3 linked regions of the Homo sapiens genome follow. The protein of the gene in region 1 interacts with the protein of each later gene in a pairwise test. Each region holds a gene or a part of one and is shown in the gene's direction. Other genes may lie near its edges.

What was found.
Region 2: the proteins of MAB21L3 (region 1) and AGGF1 interact in binary tests that used the Homo sapiens proteins (3 or more experiments, as listed by UniProt).
Region 3: the proteins of MAB21L3 (region 1) and CT45A1 interact in binary tests that used the Homo sapiens proteins (3 or more experiments, as listed by UniProt).

What each region holds. Positions count from the first base shown.
Region 1 is NC_000001.11:116,121,399-116,128,424, forward strand, and holds part of MAB21L3 (protein mab-21-like 3), read left to right. Parts: intron 1-732; exon of another isoform or gene 733-817; intron 818-2,196; exon of another isoform or gene 2,197-2,667; coding exon 2,668-2,959; intron 2,960-6,067; coding exon 6,068-6,246; intron 6,247-6,746; coding exon 6,747-6,941; intron 6,942-7,026.
Region 2 is NC_000005.10:77,025,769-77,033,427, forward strand, and holds the start of AGGF1 (angiogenic factor with G patch and FHA domains 1), read left to right. Parts: upstream 1-4,635; 5' UTR 4,636-4,998; coding exon 4,999-5,208; intron 5,209-7,659. UniProt on the Homo sapiens protein: Promotes angiogenesis and the proliferation of endothelial cells. Able to bind to endothelial cells and promote cell proliferation, suggesting that it may act in an autocrine fashion.
Region 3 is NC_000023.11:135,708,955-135,716,662, forward strand, and holds the start of CT45A1 (cancer/testis antigen family 45 member A1), read left to right. Parts: upstream 1-4,684; 5' UTR 4,685-4,736; exon of another isoform or gene 4,737-4,753; intron 4,754-7,708.

The sequences.
Region 1 (7,026 bases):
GCCCCCACATTCCTAGATGAGAAAAACTAGGCTCAGAGAAGTCAAATGACTTGATCAAGTCATATCAGGCACTAAAGCCAGAACTCACACAGAGGCTTTTGATTCCAAAGCACATTCCGCTGTCACAATCAAAGCTCAGTTAAATACACATTCATTTATTAAGCACCTACTTAATAGATTGGGGGTGGGGTGGAGGGAACTGAGGGCATCCATAAGAAGACAGTTGAAAGTCAGTCTGTGGGTTGCAGATGGGGAAGGAAGAAAGTAGAAGAGGTGCCACTGAGAAGCTGCAGGAGCAGACTGGCAACCCCTCTCCCTGCTAAAGAATCCCACCCAGTGTAAGCCAATGGGTAACACCAGCATTCAGGCAACACAGTAGTGAGGGCAGAGCTGTACACAGAGAAACGACCTTACTTAAACCTGTAAACCACCTTGTGGAAAAGACAATCTGTTCATTTCCATTTTAGAGGTAAGAGAAGTGAGATCCTGAATCATTCTGAATCTCCATTATTCTTTATCTCGATTTTTATTATGCCACCTACCTCTTTCACTTTGTATTAAATTTGTATGTATTCATGGCCCATTTCTCACAACAGACTGCACATCCCTCGATTGTAAGGACCAAGTTTACTATTCGTTTTGTTCCTAGCACCCAGCATGGTATGTGGCACATGGTAGACACTTAACATATGTGGAATGAATGAATAAATGAATGAGTAAAAGAATTAGTACCTGAGCAAAAGACCATTGCTGGCCCATTACATCTCAAGGTTGGTGGACGCAGGAACCACCTAAGAGATTCTGGGATTTGTGGATTCTGAAACAGACTCAGATTGTAGGAAATTAATCCCAGGGTGAAAATTATAAAACCAGACTGAATCCTGGAATGCTAGAATATCACTTGCCCAACTCTACCACCCAAGCCAATCTAACTTGGACACACATAGACCAGTGACTAGAAATAGAGATATTACATTACTTTTCTTAGCACTATACCCAAGGAAATTTCCTTCAGTGGTCCCACTTAGAATTCATAGCTTAAAATATATCTTGCATTTATATATGTCATGTCTCACATATTAAGTTTTGAAAATAGCTACAGCATAGCATATAAAATTGCTTTTAACTTAGATCAAAATCAACAAGTTTTTGTTTGTTTTGCTTTTTTGCCTGTTTTTTAAAGATAGGGTCTCATTCTGTCACCCAGGCCGGAGTGCAGTGCTGCGATCATGGCTCACTGCAGCCTCAACCTCCCAGGCTTAAGTGATTTTCCCACCTCAGCCACCTGAGCAGCTGGGACTACAAGTGCAAATGCCACCATGCCTGGTTAATTTTTTTATTTTTATTTTTTGTAGAGATGGATTTCATCATATTGCCCAAGCTGCTCAACAAATATCTACTAAGCACCACTTATATGACTAATAACATGATAGTTGTGCTTTTGAATTCACATGAAAGTGAATTGAAATAATGTACAGATCTGAAATTCCAGGGACTTTAGATGTTTTTCCTCTTTTTAAATCCAGCTGCCTTTCTATGGGTACCAGAAGTCATGTGGATACATCATCTAAAACATCAAACTATTGTTTTCTTAGAGTTAGACAGAACCAGCTGGAGCTGATTAGGGCTTTCCCCACTCAATGGGTCAATGACTGGCCCTGGGCAAGAGTTAACCAAATTCCATGGTCAGAGCTTTCCAGGAGGAGGAGGCAGCTGACTCACAGCCGAAGGCGTGCATGCAGTGGGACATGGTCATAGTTCAAGCTCCTTTGGCTGCTCTGTTTACCCACTTGTTCTACCTCTCGGCTGCCGGTCTGCCTGCTTTCCCCCAGTCGTTGCTTCACTGGTTCCTGGAGAAAGGGGCTAGGTAAATTCTGATTGTTTGCTTTTTTCTTTAAGCTTAGAATCATCTCAACAGCTCACATTGTCTCAACAAATAAGCTTTCATTTTGCCTTTATTTTGGAAGGGTTAGTCATGAACACTGACCATAGGTCATCAGTACAGGCCAAAAAAAAAAGGAGATATTTTACAAAATCTGTTACGTCCCCTCCTGTTACTTCCCACCTTTAATTTGTGTCAAAACATTCACCATTCCATGTCATTCATTGTTGGCTGAGTGCCAGCCCAGGGTAGAGAAATAATAACTGAACAAGCTGTCCAAAGACCTAAATTCAAATTCTGACTCTTCTACTTACTGGTTGTGTGTCCCTGAGGAGATCTCCAAGCCCCTCTGCATCTTGAATTCCTTATCTGGAAAATGGCAAGAAAGCTCACCTTACTGTGTGACTGTGAAGTTGAAATGGTCAAATGCATTAGAATTACGGTGTTGCGTCTGCATGGAACTGAATGCATACTCATTCTTCTTTCTCAAACCTTAGGTCTCCTCTGGAGTTCCTGGTTTAGTTCACTGTCTTTACTTGTATATTCATGAGATAATAAACTCAGCAGGTTAATTTACTTGCCCGAAGTATTTACAATGATTCAGTAGCAGAACAAAGAGGTAATCCACTTGTAACACCCAGGTCGAGGTCTCCGTGTATCTGGTCACTCTGCTGAGGGTGGAGTGGTTAACAGAGCTGCCTGACGAGACAGGTTGGTTCCCAGGACTTCCGTTACCTCCCGAATCTGTGAATTCATGCTTGTTTTCAATCCTTTCCTGACCCTAGGTTTTGGCTCCCAGTCAGTTCCTCGTCACAGTCCCAATAAAAGGCCTGGCCGGGTACAGGGAGGCCAGGGAGCAGCACTGGCGGTACTACACACTGCAGGGCACCAGGCTGCCCTGCCCGTTGCGGGACCCTGAGGGTCTGCAGCAGTGGCTGGAGGTGGAACAGTTTATGAAGAGCCTGTGGCAGTGGCATGAGACAGATGTGAACATCGACGGAGACATTGTGCCTGCCAAGGTCCTCCTAGTGTTCCGGAAGCTGGTGGAAAATGCAGTTAGAACCTGTCACCTCTCAGGTGAGCTGATCAGGAACAAGTGCAAGGGTAATTGCTGGCATTCCCCTTTCACTCTATAAAACCTCTGTTTGGGTGTTACCTGCAGCTCACAGCCTACATTTGAGAAAATAATCATGTGCTCTTCACATTTATTTAATCTTCATAATATGAATCAGCTTTTTTTCCTGCTGTTGATGCACAGAAGATTGGAATTCATACTAACAAAATAGTCTTGTGGCTTTAAGAAAGTTACTGTGCTGGCATAGATATAAAATGCTGTGGATTATGCACCTTAACCAGGCTTAAAAACTTAAGCGTATTGTTTTTTAAAAAAGCAAATTATTCACAAACCCCAGGTCTTCTTTATTAGCACATTTCTACTGCAGCACCTCCATCTGACTGCAGTACCACAGGGTGCTGAGATTCCACATTTGGAAACCACTAACTTGTACCAAAGCACAAAATCCAGGAGCCATAAAGAACTGACTAAGTTTGACAACTCCAAAGTCTTAAGCTACTGTACAGCATATGCATACACACACACACACACACATACACACACACACACACTCCCTTTTTGTTCACACAAAGCGAAAAGGTGAATTTCAAACTGGAAAGAAATGGCTAATTTTCTTAATTTATAAATCAATAAGAAAAAAGATGAGCTGACCAATAGAGATAATTACCAAAAAAAAAAAAGGAATCACAGAAAAAGAATACAAATGGCTTGCAAAAATAAGAAAAGGCATTCCATCTAATGTATATTTCAACGTATATTAGAATATACCTAATGTTGGGTGCATTAAAATACCTAGCAAGCTAAAAGAAATGAAAAGTTTGATCATGCTTAGTGTCGAGTGGGCATGGTGAAATGGGTATTCTCATGTTGTTATTAGAAGTGTAAATTGGTGTCTCCTTTTTAAAGGGCAAGTTGTCTATATTTTATTTTTATAATGTGCTTACTTGACAATTCAACAATTCCAGTTCTAGAAATATATTTCTACAAATACACAAAGAATTGTGCACCAGGATATTCTCTGCCATAGGTTTTATAATAGTAAATAGCTAGAAGTAATCTAAATGGCTAACAAAGGAAAATTGGCTAAATTAAATTATGCTATCTCTGCCTACTGGACTACTATGCAGCCTTTAAAAAGAACAGGCATATGCCCATGCATACATACAGAGCTATGAAAAATGCATGTGCTAAATAGTTAAGTGAAAAACCAAACTGCTAAACAATATGAGATTCCATCTGTGTGAAAATAAAAGGATGTATTCATACATACATTTGTTTGTCTAGACAGAATAGTTCTGAAAATTTCCATAATGGTAATAGTTTATGTTTAATAGATTTTTTTACTAAGTAGAATAAGTTTCATGGGTTATTTAATTTAATCCTCATAACCACACAATACAGTAAGAATTCTTTTCCTACCTGTTTTAGAGATGAGGAAACTGAGACTTAGAGAGATTAAGTCACTTCTGAAGTTCACACACCTCATAAGCAGAGCCAGCTGCAGGGCAGGGTGTGGGCCGGCAGGGTGTGGGCCGGCAGGCTGGCTGCAGCATCGGCTCACCTCTTATGCTGTGCGACATTATTCATGGTGAAAGTGCAAAGCAGAGATTCAGAATGGGCAAGGTTTATGAGGCGCTTTTAGTAAATAATGCTAAAGTGCCAGTTGTCATGTTCCTGTCTGGGCAGCTCTGATGAGATGCAGACAAGCCCTTTATCCCACCCTGGCCAGGGAATGTTTCCCTTTTGAACAGCCTAACACAATTAATGTGCTTCCATTTTCTTCTCTGTGCAAGGAAATGCAAAATAATAGATTCCAATCTATTTCAAGAATTGGGATGAGCAAATAAGGATGAATAGATCCTGATCTATTCAAGACTGCTTATCTTTATCTGCAATGAAGGCAAACAAACAAAAACTGTACCTTTTGAAAGAAGAAGGAGCAAATTGGAAATGAGGAAATTATAGTATGTGAGCTGGAAAACTACTAGATGCGTTAGTTTTCTCTTCTTCTCTTTGCCTGGTTGGAAAACGAGGCAATGGAGACTTCTTTCAAATCACTCAATCCTCTGAAACAGTGGCTGTGACGTGCTTTGATGTATTTTGTGGTTACAGGGGTTTCTGATGATAGATACCTCTGAGGCTCGGCTGGCTGAATGGATGGTAAAAACAAATACCATCTAAGAGACTGAGGCTCAGATAAAAGAAAGGTGAAGCCAAATTTCACCAAAGGCATATGCATAAATAAGGAGGCTGATGCTGTCCCTAACCAGTGTCAGAATATCTAGGTGAAGAGGGAAAAAAAATGGCATTAGCCTTCCCTATGTTTGCATTACTCTGAAAACCAACATTTAGATATTTGGGTGGAATGGAGAAGGATATAGAAAAATAGTTAGGTTTCATTTTTACAGTAGCAAATACAGAAGTTCCCCAACTTGCCATGGCTCAACATATGATTTTTTTACTTTACAAGGGTGCGAAAGTGATACATGTTTAGTAGAACCCATACTTCGAGTACCCATACAACCATTCAATGAATTCCATGAGATATTCAACACTTTATTATAAAATAGGCTTTGTGTTAGATGATTTTGCCCAACTGTAAGTTAATGTAAGTGTTCTGAGCACTTTTAAGGTAGGGTAGGCTAAGCTATGATGTTTGGTAGGTTCGGTGTATTAATACATTTTCAACTTAGAATATTTTCAGCTTCATCAGGATGTGACCTCATCGTAAGTCAAGGAGCATCTATACTACACTTTTTCTTTTTATTCTATGGCTTTTACTTTCAGTTGATCCTCCTGAAAAGAATCTATTAATTTAAAAGAAAAGGTACCCCAAATGCCTTGGGGTTGGGGGAGAAAGAAAAACTCACCAGCAATGAGACTTCTTAGTAATGTTCCGATGCTGGCTAGCTGACTAACCATCTGGTTTTGATGTCAAAACCTTGACGTGCTACAGGCATTGTGATCCTTCACGTGCTACAGACATTGTGAAAGTTGCCACACCAGTTGCAAGGTGCTGGTCAGAGCAACTGCTCACAAATTTCTTGTTTGAACGCTTGTAATGTGCAAACCTTTCTCTTCTCCTTATCCATTTGGTCATTTCCCACCAGGTAAGGTCAGCCTGCTAGGAAACCGCTCTGCAGTTTGGGTTGCTGTGGAAACATCTGCATATCAGGTGGAACTGGAGCTGGTCCCCGCAGTGGAGATCCCCACCACCTGGTCCAAGAAAGCCCGGTGGCCTCGATGTCTGCAGCGCTGGCCTTCCCAAGAGAGAGTGGAGTGCATCAAGGTATCAGTGGGCGGGACCCAGCTTGCCAGAGCAGTGATGCCAACAGCTTAACCAGTCACAGCATTACTGACTGCCAATGAGTTTCCGAAGGAAAGTTGAGGTGTTACTAGATCAGCAGTTCTCAAAGTGTGGGCCCTGCAGCAGCGTCACCTGAGAACTTGTTAGAAATGCAGCTTCCCGAGCCCCCACTCTGGACCTGCTGAATGAGACCCTGTGAACAGGGCCCAGCAATCTGTGTTTTAAGAAGCCCTCTGGGTGATGTGATTCTGATGTATGCTCAAGTTGGAGAACTGCTGTAGGAGAGGAAGTGGGCACCATCTTCTAACTGTCCACATCCAAGGTGGCTTGTGGTCTCCCTGGCACCCCCTTCTCATCCCCACGTAGGATGTGCTGTCTGCCTGGTGACAAGTTCCCCAGACCAGCAGACTGCTTCAGAAATGGCTTTCTACACCAGTGAGCATTGTTCTTCTTATTTCCCAATATTTTTCTCTTTCTTCCAGTCGTTTGGATTTAACTTGTTGGCCTGTTCAAATTATCACTGGCAGCTGAGCTTCCTCCGTGCTGAGCAGGTGTTACTGGAACAGCTGGATGAAGATGGGGGCTGCCGTAGGAAGTGTTTTCAGGTCATGAGGCACCTGAAGGAGGACATCTGGTGCCCAGGGAACAGGCCGGTTATCACGTCCCACCATCTGCAGGTGAGTGTGGGGCAGGTTGGAGAAGACCCAGGGGCAGCTTTGGATAGGTCATTCTTCCTGTGGCCTCTGTAGGGCCTGGCCAGAG
Region 2 (7,659 bases), on another chromosome or scaffold:
CCCTTGGAGCCATTTGAGTTTGCTTTACACAGTAGTAGTTCTACAGCCAGATCTGTTTCTCAAGCTTCAGATAGGCTTCTGCAGTGCTCACTATTTACTGAACACCTCAAATTCAATATAATTAACAATATCGAAACTAAAGCATCCCTTCCTCCTCATGCAACATACTCTTCTCCAATAGTCCCTATCTTCCTCATCCAAGCTAGAAACCTATTCATCACTTTGACTTTTCTTTCCCTCTCTAATATACTACAGTATACAATTTTATTCACAATAAAACTACGGTGTGTCTAGGAAATAACCTAAGAAAGAATACCCAAGACCTTTCCCGAAACAAGTGTTAAAATTGTACTAAAGTCCAAGAAAAATATTAAGCAAAAATGTATGTGAATTGACTATCTAAATAAAGTTTTATGTTAATTCCCCTAAATAAATCTATACATTCAATGTAATCTTAATAAAAATCCCATTGGATTGTTTGAGGAACTCAACGAACTCATTCTAAAATTTATATGGAAAAATAGAGGTTTATGAATAAGCTGATTTTGAAAAAGAAAAACAAAATAGGGCCTTGCCCTACCAGTTAAGGCATACTAAAGAACCTAAGTGATAAAAACAGAGTGGCTCTGGCATGGGAGCAGACTAATAGACAAGTGGAAAAGAATGGCGAGCTCAGAACTAGGCCCATATATAAAGATGGGAACCTGATGGAAGATGATGGTGGTACTACAAAGCAATGCAAAGGGGATGGTCTTGAGAAAACTAGGTCATGTCTGAATACCCCCAGCTGGAATAGAGAACAAATGTGAAAGTTCAAATTATAAGATCAATAGAAGAAAATATGACTTGGGGTAAGGAAAGTCTTCATGAAACCCTACACTGTAAAGCCAAATAAAATTTTAAAAAGTAAAATAAAATAAAGACTGATTTCATGACATACAAATTAAGAACTCCTGGCTAACAAAGAACACTGGACAAAGCTAACAAATATATGACAAACTGGGAGAAGATATCTGTAATATCTAAAACTGATAAAGAAGGAATACCTTGTTTATATAAAGAACTGCAAAATAACAAGAAAGAAATGGGCAAAAAGATATGGATAGGCAATTCACAGAAAGGAAAGGACATATAGCCATTTCAACATATATACATTTCAACAAATGTATGAGATTCTCTAGTAATCAGAGGAGTATCAATTAAAACAGCAAGGAAATAGCTCATTATATTCATAATGGCAAAAAGTACAAAAAATGGTTCATATCATTTATTGGAGAGGATGTGGGAAAAAAACATTACAAAACAAAATCAAATCGTGAAGGGTGTCAAGTAGAATGCTTTTTTAGGGCAGCGCCTCTGCCCACTATGCTAAGTACCTCTTAGATCTGAAAACTAGGTGTGGCAAAGACTGCTATTTACATACTCAACATGAATTTTGCCCTTCTTCCTTACTTGTAGAACCCCTATATTATTAGGAGAATAATGCGTCTAGCTTAGAAAAACACACATATACACATAATTCCCAGCCCCACTTGCAGCAAGGGGTGGCTATTGATAGGTAGACAGGAACCATTGAGTGGGGCTTTGGGAAAGTCCTTTCATCCCTTGCCATCTTGCACCATGGATCGACCTGGAGGCTCTGGAAACATGCTCCGAGAATAGCAGAGCAGAAAGACATACCGAGCCTGGGTCCCTGAAGAACTGTGGAGTCACTGGCCATGGACTGCCCCTCTCTAGGCTTCTGTAATGTAACAGGATAACACCCTAATTTGTTTAATAAGCCACTATAGACCACCTCTGATACTAGCACCTTAATGCAATTCCTGATATTCAAGGCTTTTTCTAAAAAAATGTCATTCTTTTCTAATGGTCAGAGGTAGGATACAGACTGGTATTACAAGGTAAAGATAACTTAGCCTTGAACAGATTAAGACAAATAAGAGGAGCACTGCTTCAAGTAGCAGTCAATAAGCTTATTTATTTTTTCTCCAGTTAATTACTAAAAACTGAAATATCATCTTAAAGATACCTTTCAAATGGTATTTATGGAATTTCTTATCCCCTAAAGAAAATAGGTGGAGAAAGTAGAAAATAGCATCTTTTTAAAAGGACTTCAATATGTTCATTAATGGAGTCATAATGCATCAAGGGAAGTCAGAAATTTTTTGCAATACATCTTTTTTTTTGCATCACAGGGGACATACCATGTCTTCTCACTAAACTTCCTTTGATGGCTTAAGGTTACTCTTGACATGACAATAAGGTAGAATCTCTATGTTTCCAGATACAGTGCCTTGTGAAGAACTCTTCAGGCCTAAGGAGGAATGTGTACAGGCCCTAGAGAGGGCAGGTCTCTGCTGGAAAGCTCACTGTTTATGAATAATCTAGTGGGCAGTGCACAAGACAAAAATACATACAGAGCCATATTTTAAAATTTAGATTTTATTATTATTTATGTATGGTGAGGCCAACAGATCAGGAGATGGTCTGCTATCAAAAAGACAGTTTATTATTCACCCAGCCCAAGAGGAGGATGCACACCAAGCCACACAAGGCAATGTGGAGAAGCACCAAGGTCCAAAGGAGGCAGAAGGAGTGGGAGGAAACATGGCAAAAAACATTATGTGATTTTTGCAGGAAGGAATGGACAAATCAGGATAAGCAGGTTTAGTTTGCATAATTTCAGTGGGATCTGAGATGTAGGAGTTGTTCCTAGTTGTCTGGTACTTTGCCCTGGAGTGATTAGGGCAGGGGAATATTGGCATGGAGTGTAACAGCCTGATAAAGAAGGTAGATGATCAGTGTGTGGCATGCTGGGTGAGTTGTTTGCTATGTCTAGGAATTAGCTAACCCTTGGAGGGGTTATCTCCCTGGTCAGGGAGACCCCAGATGCCAGAGCATCAAGAATACAAAAAATAAGAAAATATAGTTAATGGAAGTGGCCACTGATCTAAGACACCAAACAGGATTCTCTTGTTCAGCTGTGTTCAGCATTTACGGATACTGCTCTGCGACAGGCACTGTGCTGGGCCCTGAGAGAGGAGCATCTGCATGACACAGCTGCTGACCTCCACAAATCTCAGGCCCAGGACTCTGAGCTCATGATCTAATTCTAAATGACTTTGGCAAAGGAAGGAAGTGTGTTCCAAAGAAGGCCACATCAGTTTAAATATTGGCAAACCAATGCCAGGGTCATGCAGACAAAAGACCAAATAAATGCACCAAACCAGAGCATTTTTCTCCCCTTTTCCACAGAATATTGTCTCTCTCTTATTTTCCCACCAGGGATGCTCCTTTTTGCGACTCAGACCTAATGTACTTGCTCTATTTTCCCGGGGGGTCTAAACTCAGGAACCAGAAGAATGACTAAATGAGAAATAAAAGTAAAATTCTGAGCCCCTGAACTGACTGAATAGACCCATTGTTCACTACATAGAAAGCCAGTCATTGAGACAAGGAGTATTGCCAGGGAAGAAGGTTCTATTTGGGTGCTGCAGCCAAGGAGAATAGGAAATCAGTCTCAAATCCATCTCCTCAACCAACTAAAATTAGAGGTTTATATGGCAAGGGAGAAATGTGACTACATGTGAGAAAACAGGAATTAGTGAGCGGTAAGGATGAGGACTTGTTCAACAGGCAGCAGGTGGCTGGTTAGGCAATCATGATGGGTGAGGGGTATGGTGCCTCATTGTCCAGATGCAGTGATCTGGTAAGTTTCAATTCCTTGATACTATCTGGGAGGCCTCATGGTTGGTTTCCCAAGAAAGGAACTCAGATAAGAAAGATGTAACTTTCTGAAGTTTTAAGACTGGGAGGGTAAATTTCCAGGTTTATTCAAAAGAAACCATAAACATCAGTTCTATAGGACAGTTGGGCTGATTTCACACCAACCAGCATTCCTTCCTGATAAGAGACCACCAACCACAGAGAAGTTCTGGCCAATCTACCAGGGACTCACAGCGAGGGTTTTCATGTCCTCTGCTTTGCCATTTGACATCAGAGGGCTGAAAACTTCACACTGGGATCATGCTAACACCACCATTTTTTGAATATGGGTCCCATAGAGAGGCAGGAAGCTTAATTGTGCATGTGCATATTTCTCCTTTCATAAATATTCATGAATCCTCCTACAGCTCATTGAATATATTTGGCCACCCTGCTCAGCATAAATTTCTGTTCCCTTTGTCCTTCCTTCCAAGTGTCTGTTCTCAGCTTCTGACCAGAGGCTATGCTTCCAAGCCTGTCAGAAAGGCCACCCTGCAGGCTGTAACCCTTCATGAGAAATAAAGCCCTTTTCTAAATTTATTAACCTCCTCATTCTTCAGTTGACATAAGTAGAGCATCATAGTCCCCACAAATCATTTCTGGGATACTCTGTTCTTATTTGTAAAACAAGGAGATAGGAAATGCATGCTATACTAAAAGTTTGTTCAAAGAACATCCGCACGTGCAAATGTCTGAGACCAGAGGCTGCAAGCCTCCCTGTCGCTCTTAGGGCTTCGGTAGCCACATTGCCACAGCTCTCCACGCCCTCAGGTAACGCCCCTCCGCAGGCCGAGACGTCGGCACGTACACTGTCAGGTCTTCCCGCTTTCCGTCGCTTCCTGTTCCGTCTTGGTCCCGCCTGCCGCTGGCGCCGTTGTTTCCGGCTCAACTGGGGAGCTGCTGGAGCTCTTCTGGCCTCTGGTTTTCCGACTGCTTATCCGACGCTCCTCCCTCTGTCTCTGTAGCTGGAGAAGGTAGTTTCCAGGAAAGTTTTCCGGTTTGCAGGCCGCGCACATCGGGCAGGGGCCATCCTCGGTCCCCTTGCTCGTTGCTCGCAGCCCCGTTCGGCTACAAGTGAGTTTCAGGGCGTCATGGCCAGGGGCCACCGCGGCCAGCCGGGTGTGAGGCTGCCTTTCGCTGCCCGCGCGCTCCAGTGGTCTCTGGGTCCGCCGGCGTCCGTTTCGGCCTGAACGCAGCCCCTCCGCGGCGACGAGCAGTCTCGCGCCGGAGCTCATGGCCTCGGAGGCGCCGTCCCCGCCGCGGTCGCCGCCGCCGCCCACCTCCCCCGAGCCTGAGCTGGCCCAGCTAAGGCGGAAGGTGGAGAAGTTGGAACGTGAACTGCGGAGCTGCAAGCGGCAGGTGCGGGAGATCGAGAAGCTGCTGCATCACACAGAACGGCTGTACCAGAACGCAGAAAGCAACAACCAGGAGCTCCGCACGCAGGTGCGCGGTCCTCCTCAGCCCCGCGCCCCATCCAGCCCAGGCGAGGCCTTCGAAGCCCGTGATAGCCTCGGAAGGGGTCCCTGGCAGGGGCTCAGAACTACTGTAGAGTACTTAAAGTAAATAAGTAGAAGCTCAGCGCAGTTACAATTCCAAGTACCTTAGGAGCAAACCTGAGTTCAGGTTACTTGATTTAAATCAATGTCTCGCGGCTGGCGTGAATTGAACTTAAGTACTGTGGCTACATTGTCTTCATTCTCACTTGACCTAACATCCCATTGGCAGTAGGCGCATTTACTGTAGATCACATTTGAGTTTATTAAAATGCTGGACTTGAGTCAGAATCCCATCTCTGCTATTCACTGGGTGTGTGAACTTATATACCGAGTCTCAGTTCCCCATTAAATGAGAATGATAGCTCACAGTAGTAAAGGTGAAGTAAAACAAACAATTTTACAAACTTTTGAATGCTATACCTGTTTAAGGTTGCTCTTCTGGGCGTTTATCATCTTCGGCTTTCTTGTGTAAGTAGGGACGATATATAACTGCTTTTGTTGGAGACGTTAAGCAGCTTATTTCGTTTCCAAGATGGTAGGGGCAAATGTTAATACTTAAACTGTCACATTAAAAACAACCTTGGCTGGACGCGGTAGCTCACGCCTGTAATCCCAGCACTTTGGGAGGCCGAGGCGGGCAGATCACCAGGTCAGGAGTTCGAGAGCAGTCTGGCCAGCATGGTGAAATACAAAATTTAGCCGGGCGTCTCTACTAAATACAAAAATTAGCCGGGCGTGGCGGCGGGCACCTGGAATCGCAGCTAGTCGGGAGGCTGAGGCAGGAGAATTGCTTGAACCTAGGTGGTGGAGGTTGCAGTGAGCCGAGATCGTGCCACTGCACTCCAGCCAGGGCGACAGAGTGCAACTCTGTCTCAAAATAAAAACCAAAAAACCAAGAGCATAGTATTTTTTTCTACCTTGTTGGCAGGCCCTCTCTGCCAACAGATTATTTCCACATAGTAACTAGTTTCAATTTGACCGTTGTCTAGTCCTTCATAATTTATTGGTGGTTTCCTAAAACCAGTATATAGGCTGAACACTGAAACGTCATCAGACTTCTTTGTTTTGTTACCAAATGGACTATGAAAATAACTGTTGAGTTGCAATGACTTTGTATGACCATTACATGGAGTTCCTGACATGACATTATTGGAAAGTTTTTGTTTAGTCAATTTAAACACCTACGGTGTGTAATAACTATGCTAGGAAAATACAAATATGGTAAAAAAAAAAAAAAAAAAAAAACAGGGAGAGGTGGCTGGGCGCGGTGGCTCACGCCTGTAATCCTAGCACTTTGGGAGGCCGAGGCGGGCGAATCACGAGGTCAGAAGATCGAGACCATCCTGGCTAACACAGTAAAACCCTGTCTCTAGTAAAAATACAAAAAAAATTAGCCGAGCGTGGTGGCGGGCGCCTGTAGTCCCAGCTACAGGCTGAGGCAGGAGAATGGCGTGAACCCGGGAGGCGGAGCTTGCAGTGAGCCGAGATTGCGCCACTGCACTCCAGCCTGGGCGACAAAGCAAGACTCCGTCTCAAAAAAAAAAAAAAAAAAAAAAATGGGGAGACGGGAGCAAAATATAACAGCCTTTTTTACATGACAGCCTTTTGAAAAGCTCCTTTATAATTCTAAATTGTTGAAGTACTGCTTGCGTTAGAGATTCTAAAAGAAAACGTTTTTTGCTAATCTTCAGAGAGCCAGCATTTTGGTGTTACTGTTAATTTGATAAATCAGACTAAATGATGGGACTTTGTGAACAGATCCTTTATTTCTTACAGAAAAGAATGTTTTTATGCTAATATTTTGAGAGGTCAGCAATTCTCCCTAAAGAATTAGAAAATTTAAGAGCTATCAATTCCCATTCATGTTATCTAATATCATTCAATGTTCACGTGGATTTAGTTATTAAATGTTAATGCCTCTTATAAGCTTTAATACACTTTAAAAAAATAGTAGTTCTGTGACTAAACTGCAGCAGAAGCGAACAGAAGGTAATTGCCTGAGAGGATCATCTGTCCTCCACATGCCTCCATTTTAGTCCAATATTAAAAATTTAATCTCATAGAAAGTCTTGACTCTACTTTGAATAGTGATAACTCCTTACTCTCCTAGTCAGCCTCCCTTGGTTGGGGAGAGGGTGGATTCGATTAACTGTCATTCCAAATTACTGAATGTGTTTTATTTGGAGCAGTTAAAAAGTTTTGCTTGAGAATGATAACTGGAGAACCATAATATGTATAGGGTTTGTACAAGACCCCAAAATAGCCTTGTGCAAATTACTTTGTCTTGTCTGATATTTTATGTGTAAAATTGGGGTTAGGACAACGAATATTTCAGGTGGTTTTGTGAATTAATGAGATGTTATCTAAAGCATCAAGTATAGTGCCCAGCATGTAGTAG
Region 3 (7,708 bases), on another chromosome or scaffold:
GGATATAAACCTTGAGAGTTGATATAAGGTTGAAAGAGGAGATGATAGTACATTGCTGTCCTTTCTAGCTGGACCCAAACTCTTCTTTATGACAACTACTGAAAGTAAACAAAACATTCACCTAATTAATATTATATATCAGGTTGCCAGGGATGTCACGGTTGCTGACGCAACAAAACCACCTGCAGTACAGCAGCTGCAGTTGGAACAACAATTTGATTAAGTTTATGGTCCGATCTCGGCTCACTGCAACCTCCACCTCCCAGGTTCAAGCAGTTCTCTTGCCTCAGCCTCCTGTGTAGCTGGGACTATAGGCATGCACTGTTACACCTGGCTAATTGTTTGCATTTCTTAGCAGAGACAGGGTTTCACCATGTTGGCCAGGCTAGTCTCAAACTCCTGACCTCGAGTGATCTGCCCACCTCAGACTCCCAAAGTGCTGGGATTACAAGCGTGAGCCACCGCGCCAGGCCCCGGCTATTTTTTGTATTTTTGGTAGAGATGTGGTTTTGCCATGTTGGCCAGCCTTGCCTGGAACTCCTGACCTCAAGCGATCCACCCACTTCTGCCTCCCAAATCCTGGGATTACAGGCGTGAGCCACTGTGTCTGGCGAAAACTTCACTTTTAAGTGAAACACAGAAACAAAATCAGATAATCAGAAAATGAGATACTGCATGTTCTCATTCATATGTGGGAGCTAAACAATGGGTACACATGAACATAAAGGTAGAAACCATTGACTCTGAGGACTCCAAAAGGGAAGTGGAGGGGAGGGAGGGAGCGGGTTGGAGGGTTGAAAAACTACCTATTGGATGCTCTCTTCACTATTTGGGTGATGGGTTCACTAGAAGCCCAAACCCCAGCATTATGCAATTATACCCAAGTGAGAAAACTGTACGTGTACCCTTCTGGTATTTATAATTTTAAAAAGGTTAAAAAAGAAAGCTTCAGTTTTAAATCTTAACCAGATATACATGAAAAGGATTACTACACTTTGACACCTTTACAAGTTTCTATGTTAGTTTTTAGTATTAAAGGTGAAACCTATTCCTTGACCACTTTATTAATTGTATATCCTCTTTGAACAAACATCCAAAATACAAGACTGTCACTTTTCGTTCTGTAACTGTGATTCTTCACTGCAGTCTTCTATAGATTTTACAGAGTTAATGGTCCCTAATATCTGCCATTCTCCAACTGTCCTGGGTGGCGAAATGGCTGCCATAGTAAACTTGTCACTGATAAATAGAGTTTCTGGAAACATGCAGGGCTTGTTATTTAAGAGTGACTCCATTTGGGCATTCTGGTGGATGGCCTACAGGTTTTCTTGCAGAGTATACTAGAGTCTCCAGAATGAATAACCCTAGGAACTTGAGGAACTAGCGCTTTCCAGAATTTTGGAAGCCAAGATACAAATATTGGTTTTCTCAAAAGCAATGCAAGTGGGAAGGAAAATCCATATCTAGACTAAATGTCTGTTGAGGTAAGAAGAAAGCACTTCTCTTTTTACAATAGAAGTGATCTATTGTAATCCACATACCAACTAGTGGCTGGCAGATCATTTTGGAGTCTGGTGCTAAATTGGGGGCTTAGTGTTGGTCTCCATTCCTGGAAGATTGTTCACTCAGCAATGACTGTAGCCAGGTTTGCCATGGTGAGTGGAAGTCCATGCTACTGCGCATAATCTCCATCCTTGACAGTTTGACCACTTTGTTGAGCCCATAAGATTGTGACACAAGTGTTGGGGAAAGAGGCTAATTAATATGTAGATAATAAGTACCTTATCCATCTGATTATTAAATTCTGCTCTGCTGAGGATACCCTTTGCTGAGAACTCTCATGAGACCCCAATATCTTCACATTGTATGTCCACTTGGAAAGGTCTGTCCACATATTTGTTTTTTTTTCTCAGACGTCCTTGACAGAAATTTTTAATCATGTGTCCTCAATGTCCCTGACAATTCAGCGAATGAGTGGGACACAGCCTATGCATGGTACATACTTACACGTCTGGATATGCCTCCTCCAAGAAGGTGCACTGCTCAAAGTTCTTCCCTCTGGGAGGATTTCCCTTCATCACTGTCCTTCAGGGCTGTCCCAGTCAGGACTGTCACATGCAGCTGTCCACTTGTGGCTTGTGTGGTAGGCAGGATTCTAATTAAGCCCCAACAAGATTCCAGTCTCATGGTTATTCAATCAAATACTCATATGAGTACTGCTGTGGTGGGATTTTTTTAATGCAAAAATGAGTATTTCATTTTGATAACACTAGAAGAAACAAACAAAACAACTGTGTTCCTACATCGAAGTGAAAACAATGTTTAAGCTTTCCTATCAATCAAATATATTCCAAAAGAAAATGTGTTCTGTAAAGGTTCTGAAACACAGGCAAATATTAATACAATAGGCTAGGAAGCTATAATACTGAAAATGACTCTCTTCTGACAGGGTACTTAACAAACATAATTTTTAATTTTAATTTTAATTTATTTATTTTAAGACGGAGTCTCCCTTTGTCGCCCAGGCTGGAGTGCAGTGGCTCGATCTCTGCTCACTGAAGCTTGTGCCTCCCAGGTTCAAGTGATTCTCCTGCCTCTGCCTCCCGAGTAGCTGGGATTGCAGGTGCCCACCACCATGCCTGGCTATATTTTTAATTTTTTTTTTACAAACATAACTTTTGAATTACAAAACCAGTGAAGTAATCCCTTCCAAATAATTGTGTCAAGAGTGAAACTGCTTGTTCCATTAAAACTCCAAAACTTTCGCTGTAATATTTTTTGCCACTATGAACAATTCAAGTAAATTTTGCTGCACTTAAAATAAGTTATGAAAGTGGAAAAATGGGCGGGGCGTGGTGGCTCACACCTGTAATCCCAGCACTTTTGGAGGCCAAGGAAGATGAATCACTTGAAGTCAGGAGTTTGAGACCAGCCTGGCCGATGTGGTGAAACACTGTCTCTACTAAAAATACAAAAATTAGCCGGGCATGGTGGTGCATGCCTGTAATCCCAACTTCTGGGGAGGCTGAGGCAGGAGAATCACTTGAACCTGGGAGGCGGAGGTTGCAGTGAGCCGAGATTATGGCACTGCACTCCAGCCTAGGTGACAGAGCCAGACTCTGTCTCAAAAAAAATAAAAAAGGTGGAAAAATATACAAAGTTCCAGATTAAAATGATTAATAGATGCAATATAATAAGGTTTCCCCTCCTTTCTTTTTTTCTTTCTTTTTTTTTTTTTTTTTTTTTTTTTAGACAGTCTCACTTTGTCACCCAGGCTATGCGATCAAAGCTCAATGCAGCCTCAAACTCCTAGTCTCAAGCCTCCTGGTCTCAAGCCTCCCAAGTAGCTGGGACCACAAGTACACTTTCAGCTAATTTTTGTATCTTGTGTACAGACGGGGTTTCACCATGCTGCCCAGGCCACTCTTGAACTCTTGGGCTCAAGGAATCTACCCACCTTGGCCTCCCAAAGTGCTGGGGTACAGGCATGAGCCACCACACTGTGGCCCTCATTTTTCTTATCAATTAACAACTGTTACCTTTAACAGATAGAGGTTGAATTTATATTTATTTATTTATTTATTTATATTTTTAGACAGAGTCTCGCTCTGTTACCCAGGCTGGAGTGCAGTGGTGTGATCTCAGCTCACTGCAACCTCACTTCCCCAGTTCAAGTGATTCTCCTGCCTCAGCCTCCCAAGTAGCTGTTGGGACTACAGGTGCGCGCCCCACGCCCGGTTAATTTTCTGTATTTTTAGTTGAGACGAGATTCACCATGTTGGCCAGGCTGGTCCCGAACTCCTGACCTCAGGTGGTCCAGCTGCTTTGGCCTCCCAAAGTGCTGAGATTACAGGCGCGAGCCACAGCGCCCGTTGGGGTTGACTTTAAAACACAACCCCATCCAATGAAGATTTCAGTTTGTTGATGTTGTCGTTTCTTTCTTTCTTTCTTCTTTCTTTCTTTCTTTTCTTTTCTTTTCTTTTTTTCTTTCTTTCTTTCTTTCTTTCTTTCTTTCTTTCTTTTCTTTCTCCTTCCTTCCTTCCTCTCTCTCTCTCTCTCTTTCTTTCTTTCTTTCTTTCTTTCTTCTTTCCTTTTTTTTTTTTGAGATAGAGTCTCCTCTATGGCCAGGCTGGAGTACGGTGGTGCGTTCTCGGCTCTCTGCTACCTCTGCCTCCTGGGTTCCAGCGATCCTCCCACCTCAACTTCCCGAGTAGTTGGGACCACAGGCGCCCGCCACCATGCCCAGCTAATTTTTGTGTGTGTTTTTTTTTTTTTTGGTTGGTTGGTTGCTCTGTAGAGCCGGGGTCTCACTATGTTACCCAGGCGATTTCATCCCACTGTGTGAGAAGGTTCTGCGTTCCTCTGCTTATGTTGCTGTGCAGTTGTTACTGAAGGTCGCCTGTAGAGGGCGCCAGTCAGCGAAGGGGAGGGCTGCGCTTCCTGGTTCTCTGGGGCACGAGGCTTCACCTCAGGATTCTGGCGCCCCCAACAGGTTCCCAGTGTTCGGCTGGGCCAGCACACTGTGGCTGGCTGCTTCCCTTCCTTCCATCCCCTTTGGACCAAACGGGATCGGTGCTTCTGGTGAGACGCCTCCCCATGCACATCACTCCCAGGTGCCCTAGGGGGCACATTTCCCACAACTCCCAGAGGGCAGGTTTCTAGAAAGTGCCACCAGTGGGGAGGCGCCACAACTTCACTGCCATTTTGTGAGGTGCTGCTGTCTCTCCTCCAGCAAGGTCAGGACTTAAGGACTGTGAGTGGGGCAGTTTTTCCCTGGATGCTTTAATTTCACCCCAGAAAGTGTCCTTTTTCCTCAGAAAGAGTCTTTTCTGTGGTGTTCTCTGTCTGGTGTGTGGTAGGGCTCCCTTGGGGAAGTGGCTCAGCTCTGGGGACACCGCCATGGGCGCCTGTGTCAGCCGCGGGGGAGCGTTTTCCTTGGGCACCTCGTCTCAGCCATGTTGTGAGGCCGGGGGGCTTTTCTTGGGGGCTCTGTCTCGGTGATGCTAGGGACTTTTCCTACTGAAATGACCTGAGCCCGGGGGTGGGGGCCATGCCTTGGTTGCTTGTGTCGGCCTCGGGTGCGGTGCTGTTTCTTTCCCACTCAGTCGCAGTCCTGAGCGGGGGCTCTGCCTTGGGGACTCTATCTGTTCTCATGGAACATGGTGGGGGTGGCTGTGTCCCAGACGCATGATCGCCGCCCTGTGGGATCGCTGACGGGGGCTTTATCTCAACCTGCGAGGGACTCTTCCTTGGGTGCTGATGTCGTCCGTGAGGCACATTTGCCCTTGGATGTCGCTCACTCTCAGCTAGGATGTGTTGGCTTTTCTTTGGTTCTGCTTATCCGCGATGTGGACGCTTACCGGATGCTTTGTCTTGGTGGTGGGTGCTCTCTCCCGGTGCTGCGGGGGAATGGGGTGCTGTTCCTTGGATTCTCTAAGCCTATGGTGGGACTCAGGGAGCTCTGTGTCAGCCATGAGGGAGGCCACGTGACCTTGGGAACTCTGTCTCTACCCAGGTTGGGGTGCTTTTCCTCGGTGGGTTGATCTCAATTCTGAAGGAACTCTTCACCGGGACTCTATCTGACCTTTCGGCCACAGCCTCAGGTGTCTGTGTGGGAATGGAAGTCCAGAAATATTCGAAGGTTCCAGCTGTGCCACATTCGAACACTCGCTGTACAGTTAGTCTTTCATTCCAGCCACTCCGATGGGTGTGCAGTGATCTCTCCTTATGTCTACACTCGCATTTCTCTGCCGATTAATGAGATTGAGCACCTTTTTAAAAAAATTGTTTTTATTTATTGATTTTTGTTTGTCTTTTGAGATGAGGTCTCCCTCTGTCACCCAGACTGGATTGCAGTGCCACCACACCCAGCTATTTATTGTTTTTTTTTTTTTTTGAGCACCATTTTATGTGTTTATTGGTCATTTAACTATGTCTTTCATGAAGTTCCTTTTCAGGTATTTTCCTCCAGCTTTTACTGAGATGTTTGTATTTTAAAAATGGATTTGTAGTTTCCATATATTCTGTATTTGAGTTATATACACATGCACGCAGGCATATATGTACATATATAAAAATACGTATACAATTTTAGTATCTTCTATAAATCTTTTTTGCTTTTACACGATCTCAATAATGTATTTTAGATGAACAGATTCTCTTAATTTTATTAGTCAGTGTATTATTTATGGGTAGTGCTTTTTATTATTTAAGAAACATCTTTGAATCACCCAATGCCATTACTATTATATATATATAATACTTATATATATATAATACTTATATATATAATACTTATATATATATAATACTTATATATATATAATACTTATATATATAATACTTATATATACAATACTTATATATAATACTTATATATTATATATATATAATACTTACATATAATACTTATATATATAATACTTATATATAATACTTATATATATAATACTTATATATAATACTTATATATATAATACTTATATATAATACTTATATATATAATACTTATATATAATACTTATATATAATACTTATATGTATATAATACTTATATATATAATACTTATAGGTATATAATACTTATATATAATACTTATATGTATATAATACTTATATATATAATACTTATAGGTATATAATACTTATATATAATACTTATATGTATATAATACTTATATATATAATACTTATATGTATATAATACTTATATATATAATACTTATATGTATATAATACTTATATATATAATACTTATATATATAAAATACTTTAAGTTCTGGGATACATGTGCAGAACGTGCAGGTTTGTTACATAGGTAGACACATGCCATGGTGGTTTGCTGCACCCATCAACCCATCATCTACATTAGGTATTTCTCTAATGCTATCCCTCCCCAGCCCCCCTCCCCCAACAGATCCCACTGTGTGATGTTCTCCTCCCTGTGTCCATGTGTTCTCATTGTTCAACTCCCACTTATGAGTGAGAACATGTGGTGTTTGGTTTTCTGTTCCTGTGTTATCTTGCTGACACATGTCCCTTCAAACGACATGAACTCATTCTTTTTTAGGGCTGCAAAGTATTCCATGGTGTATATGTGCCACATTTTCTTTATCCAGTCTATCATTGATGGGCATTTGGGTTGATTCCAAGTCTTTGCTGTTATGAATAGTGCCGTGATAAACATACGTGTGCATGTGTCTTTATAGAAGAATGATTTATAATCCTTTAGGTATATACCCAGTGATGGGATTGCTGAGTCAGATGGTATTTCTGGTTCTAGATCCTTGAGGAATCGCCACACTGTCTTCCACAATGGTTGAACTAATTTGCACTCATGATGATAATATTCTAAGTTTTCTTCTAGATCTCCCAATCATCAGAAATAAATTCTCATGGAATGGAGTAAAGTCAGAGTCCAGATATATTTGATGTGATTATTAGCCATTAGAGTATGACTCTTATGAAGTGCATATTCAGCTTTTCCCCCCAAATTTTAGTGGGATGTTTGTTTTTTAGAAATTCATTTGTAGTTCTGGATATATTCTGGATTCCATTCATTTGTTGCCAGATAAATATGTATATATGTGTGTAAGTAATATATATTTTATATATAACCTATACTATATACTACATAATGTATAATCTACAAACATGATTTGGTTTTTCACCTCTTAATAGTGTCTTTGAGGAACAGAACTTTTCCATT